Regions from separate parts of the Homo sapiens genome. Here region 2 is linked to region 1. Evidence: fine-mapped expression QTL. A gene starts in region 1. The other region holds a variant in brackets. All regions are shown on one strand. Distances are from middle to middle.

The links. PIP is the estimated chance that this variant, and not a neighbour inherited with it, causes the effect.
Region 2: its variant is the best candidate, but not a certain one, in a credible set for the expression of CATSPERD in sun-exposed skin (GTEx, PIP 0.70).

Annotation. Positions count from the first base shown.
Region 1 is chr19:5,719,150-5,722,171 of GRCh38, reverse strand. CATSPERD (catsper channel auxiliary subunit delta) reads right to left here and starts at 1,535. Exons shown (of 22, transcript NM_152784.4): 1 at 1,364-1,535. The coding sequence starts at 1,434. It overlaps LONP1 (lon peptidase 1, mitochondrial), which reads left to right and starts at 2,026. Exons shown (of 18, transcript NM_004793.4): 1 at 2,026-2,468. The coding sequence starts at 2,040. RefSeq lists enhancers at 1,777-1,876, 1,829-2,345 and silencers at 2,157-2,206, 2,337-2,416.
Region 2 is chr19:5,741,284-5,743,783 of GRCh38, reverse strand. All of the region lies in intron 7 of CATSPERD (catsper channel auxiliary subunit delta), which reads right to left. Among named protein-coding and RNA genes, the nearest start is that of CATSPERD, 22 kb to the right of the region's middle. The variant C/A (reference allele first, on the strand shown) is at 1,216.

The sequences.
Region 1 (3,022 bases):
CCAGCCTGGGCGACGAGAACAAGACTCCATCTCAAAAAAATAAAATAAGGGTATGGCTGGGCATGGGTGGCTCATGCCTGTAATCCCAACACTTTGGGAGGCTGAGGCAGGAGGATCACTGGAGCCTAGGAGTTCAAGACCAGCCTGGGCAAAACAGTGAGACCCCATCTCTTTTTTTTTTTTTTTCCTTTGAGACAGAGTCTCCCTTTGTCACCCAGGCTGGAGTGCGATCTCAGCTCACTGCAACCTCCACCTCCTGAATTCAAGCGATTTTTCTGCCTCAGCCTCCCAAGTAGCTGGGATTACAGGCACCTGCCACCAAGCCTGGCTAATTTTTGTATTTTTAGTAGAGACGAGGTTTCATCATGTTGGCCAGGCTGGTCTGGAACTCTTGACCTCAAGTGAGTGATCTGCCCACCTCTACCTCTCAAAGTGTTGGGATTACAGGCGTGAGCCACTGCACCCAGCCAGTGAGACCCCATCTGTACAAAAAATAATAATAAATAAAATAAAATAAGGTTAAGGAATCATTATGAATCTTCCTGTAAACATCAAATGAGGCCATACACCCTAAGAATACAGCTCACAGGTCCCTACTGAATGTGACAGTTTAGTCCAGATGGGAGTTCCCTGAGGGCAGGAACGGAGTTTCAGCAACTGGTCCCCATGGCAGGTTGGAGTATGCACTAACCTAACATTTACTGAAATTTCAAAATGTGCTGGGTAAGGCTGGGCGCGGTGGCTCACGCCTGCAATCCCAGCACTTTGGGAGGCGGGGGTTGCAGTGAGCAGAGATCGCGCCACTGCACTCCACCCTGGGAAACAGAGCAAAAACTCCGGCTCCAAAAAGAAAAAGAAGTGGGAGGGCTAGGCCCGGCGTGGTGGCTCACGCCTGTAATCCCAGCACTTTGGGAGGCCGAGGCAGGCGGGTCACGAGGTCAGGAGATCGGGACCATCCTGGCTAATACGGTGAAACCCCCGTCTTTACTAAAAATACAAAAAAAAATTAGCCGGGCGTGGTGGCAGGCGCCTGTAGTCCCAGCTACTCAGGAGGCTGAGGCAGGAGAATGGCGTGAATCCGGGAGGCGGAGCTTGCAGTGAGCCGAGATCGCGCCACTGCACTGCAGCCTGGGCGACAGAGCGAGACTCCGTCTCAAAAAAAAAAAAAAAAAGAGGTAGGAGAGCTTAATATCGGGCTGGGAGGATGGGGTGGAGTAGGGTGAGCGAGGCGTCAAGTTCGATTCCTAAAAAGAGTAAAAGGGGAGCCTCAGTGAGGTTGGGGAGCAGGCCTCGGCTCCAAGATGAACCAGCACCCTCCCGACCCCCGGCAGCACCCCAGCCCCAGGAGTCCTGGCAGCCCCACCGACAGAGCTGAGCTGTGACCAGCGGTCGGAGCCACATGGTCACAGCCGCCACCAGCATCAACATCAGCATCGACTTGGGCTTCCGCCGCCACCACTGCCCCTCAACCGCCACGGGGAGTCGCTGCACAATCCGAGTACGTGCAGGCTGAAGCCCTGCGCATGCGCATCAATGAGTCCCGGGAGCGGGCCTCCGCGCACTGCAGCCCGGCGCTCCGCCTGAATCTTGAGCATGCGCAGACGAATCCCGGGAAGCCCGAATCCGCGCACCCCAAAGTGCGCTCAGAGCCTGAGTATGCGCACCCGGCCACCCGTGGCCAGTCTAGAGTCTGAGCATGCGCATGTTGTCCGCGCGCCTAAGCATGTGCACAGGCTGCTCATGAGTTCCTAAACGTTGCGTTTGCAACACTACCAGTGTTTTGTACGGGCGCTGGCGCCTGCTCACAGCCTTCCACGTGACCGGAAAAGGCCTTCAGCGCATAAAGTGGGAGACCGGAAGAGGCGGAGACGATCCGATGCTCGAACTCCGCCCCCTCTTCTCCGCGTAGGCCCAGCTCCCTGAAGCGGCTGTTTCGAGCCACGCGCCCATCGGGTACCGAGGCACGCGCCGGGCGTCACGTGCGTTTCGCGGCGAGCGGAAATGACGCGAGTTGTGTGAGCCGCCAGTATGGCCGGGCTATGGCGGCGAGCACTGGCTACGTGCGACTGTGGGGAGCGGCGCGGTGCTGGGTGCTGCGGCGGCCGATGCTGGCCGCCGCCGGGGGGCGGGTTCCCACTGCAGCAGGAGCGTGGTTGCTCCGAGGCCAGCGGACCTGCGACGCCTCTCCTCCTTGGGCACTGTGGGGCCGAGGCCCGGCAATTGGGGGCCAATGGCGGGGGTTTTGGGAAGCGAGCAGCCGCGGCGGAGGCGCATTCTCGGGGGGCGAGGACGCCTCCGAGGGCGGCGCGGAGGAAGGAGCCGGCGGCGCGGGGGGCAGCGCGGGCGCCGGGGAAGGCCCGGTCATAACGGCGCTCACGCCCATGACGATCCCCGATGTGTTTCCGCACCTGCCGCTCATCGCCATCACCCGCAACCCGGTGTTCCCGCGCTTTATCAAGATTATCGAGGTAATGGGAGTCCCCGCCTCGGCCTCAGGTTTCCCACCTGTGCAAGCAGCGGGCTGAACCGTGGGATCACTTGAGCGCCCTTGTGTTTCGCAACTTTTTCAGACATGAAGTTTCTCGAAGGGTGCAGTTCGAATCCTTGTCTGCTCACCACTAGCTTGGGAACCTTGAGCCAAAGTCCTCTCCCTTTCGGATTTCTTAGGATCCGTTAGATGAGAGGAGTTGAACCCGATGAGCCTAGGATTATCCACTTTAGAACGCCGGTCATAGAAATCCGGGGCCGGGAGGGACCTGAGTAGTGTTACGGCGCTGTTAGTTTTCTCCTTACTTGGCACGAGTTTTGTAATACCTCCTCGCCCCAGGCGCTCTGCCGTCTGGTTACGAGCCTCACTGGGATCAGAATTCATTCCTTTCTTAGACAAATACTTCTTGATTGCTTATTATTTGCCAGAGAGTGTTCTAGGTTCTGGGGATATGGCAGTGAACAAAACAGACAAAAATTTCTGCCTTTGAAGCTGGGCATGGTGGCGCGCGCTGTACTCCCAGCTACTCTGGCG
Region 2 (2,500 bases), 22 kb before region 1:
ATAGTGAGACAGATTTCCATAGCAGCCCAGCTGGCTACCTCCCACATCTTGCAGAGACAGAGACAGAGACAGAGACAGAGAGAGAGAGAGAGAGAGAGAGGAAGAGAGAGAGAGAGGAAGAGAGAGAGAGAGAGACAGAGACAGAGAGACTAAGACTGCTATCTTTTTTCTTTTTTTCTTTTTTTGAGATGGAGTCTCACTCTGTTGCCCAGGCTGGAGTGCAGTGGCACAGCCTCGGCTCACTGCAACCTCTGTCTCCTGGGTTCAAGCAATCCTCCCTGCCTCCCCATCTCAAGTAGCTGGGACTACAGGCACCTGCCACCATATTTGGCTAATTTCTGTTTTTTTAGTAGAAACGGGGTTTCGCCATGTTGGCCAGGCTGGTCTCAAACTCCTGACCTCAGGTGATCCGCCCACCTCGGCCTCCCAAAGTGCTGGGATTACAGCCATCAGCCACAGTGCCTGGCCTTGTTTGTTTTTGAGACAGAGTTACACTCTTGTCGCCCAGGCTGGAGTGCAATGGTGTGATCTCAGCTCACTGCAACCTCCGCCTCCTGGGTTCAATCGATTCTCCTGCCTCAGCCTCCCGAGTAGCTGGGATTACAGGCGCCTGCCACCACACCTGGCTAATTTTCTGTATTTTTAGTAGAGATGAGGTTTCACCATCTTGGCCAGGCTGGTCTTGAACTCTTGACCTCGTGATCCACCTGCCTTGTCCTCCCAAAGTGCTGGGATTACAGGCGTGAGCCATCGAGCCCAGCCTCAAGATCCTTAATTTAATCCCACCTGCAAAGTTCCTTTTGCCATGTCAGGAACCATATTCACAGGTTCCAGGAATTAGGATGTGGACACCTTTGGGGGTCTATTATTCTACCTGCCTTCAAGACCCTCCCTCCACCTATCCCATTAGGCAATTATGGGATCCATCTGCCCCTGGAAGGGACTCTAGATCCTGCTCCATCACTCCAACCAGTTTCTTTTCTTTTTCTTTTTTTGCAACAGGATATCTCTCCGTCCCCCAGGCTAGAGTGCAGTGGCACGATCACACCCCACTGTAGCGTCAGTCTCCCAGGCTCAAGCAATCCTCCAGCCCCCTGAGTAGCTGGGACCACAGGTACCTACCACCATTCCCAGCTCATTTCTTTTTCAATTTTTTGTAGATATGGTGGGGGGTGGGTCTCACTATGTTCCCCAGGCTGGTCTTGAACTCCTGAG[C/A]TCAAGTGATCCTCCTTCCTCGGCCTCCCAAAGTGCTGGGATTACAGGTGAGAGCCACTGTACCCAGCCGTCAATATATACAATTGATAGCAATAGGGGCTGACTCTTGTCCTGGCTGTAGCAGTGCTGAGAGCTCAACTATTCTCTGCGGTAACCTCTCCTCTTGAAATGTCCGTGATAAAAACAATTCCACTGCCACACGCACAAACATACATGCACACACACACATGTACACACATGCACACGCACACCCACACACACATTCACATACGTACACACGCACACACACGTACACACATGCACACGCACACCCACACACATTCACATACGTACACACACGCACACACATGTACACACATGCACACATGTACACGCACACACGTTCACATACATACACACACGCACACACACGTTCACACACGTACACACGCGCACACACGCACACACAAACGCTATTTTAGTAATAATTGGGAATTTTAGTGATGCTAGGTTTCCTTTTTTGTTTTTTTTGTTTGTTCTTTTTTTTTTTCCTTGAGACAGAGTTTCACTCTGTCACCCAGGCTGGAGTGCAGTGGCACGATCTGGGCTTACTGCAACCTCCTCCACCTCCCAAGTTCAAGTGACTCGCCTGCCTCAGCCTCCCAAGTAGCTGGGATTACAGGCACGCCAGCCGCCACACCCAGCTAATTTTTGCATTTTTCAGTAGAGACGGGGTTTCACCAAGTTGGCTTGGCTGGTCTTGAACTCCTGACCTCAAGTGATCCACACCACCCCCCCCCCCCCGCCTTCAGCATCCCAAAGTGCTGGGATTACAGGCTGAGGCACCGCGCCTGGACAGCGGTCATTTGATTTGAAGGCCACCTGATTTCAATGTGACCTCATTCTAGCTTAACTGATTACATCTGCAAAGGCCCTACTTCCAAGTCAGTTTCCTGCTATGGTTTGAATGATGGTTTCCCCTCCAAAATTCATGCTGAAATCCCCAATGTACTATCAATGTATGGTCTTTGGGATGAGCATCCTTATAAAAGAGCTCTACGTTGAAGAGAGCACTGTTCGTTGGTTCTTCTGCCTTCTGCTGTGTGAGGACGTGGCTCTTGCCCCTCCAGAGGACCCCCCAACATAGGCACCATCTTGGGAGCAGATTGCAGCCTTCACCAGAAAACAACCTTGCTGGCGTCTTGATCTTGGACTTCCCAACCTCCAGAACCATGACAAGTAAACTTCTGTTCCTTATAAATTACTCGGTCTCAGATATTTTGTTACAGCAGCAAAAATGCCAAAG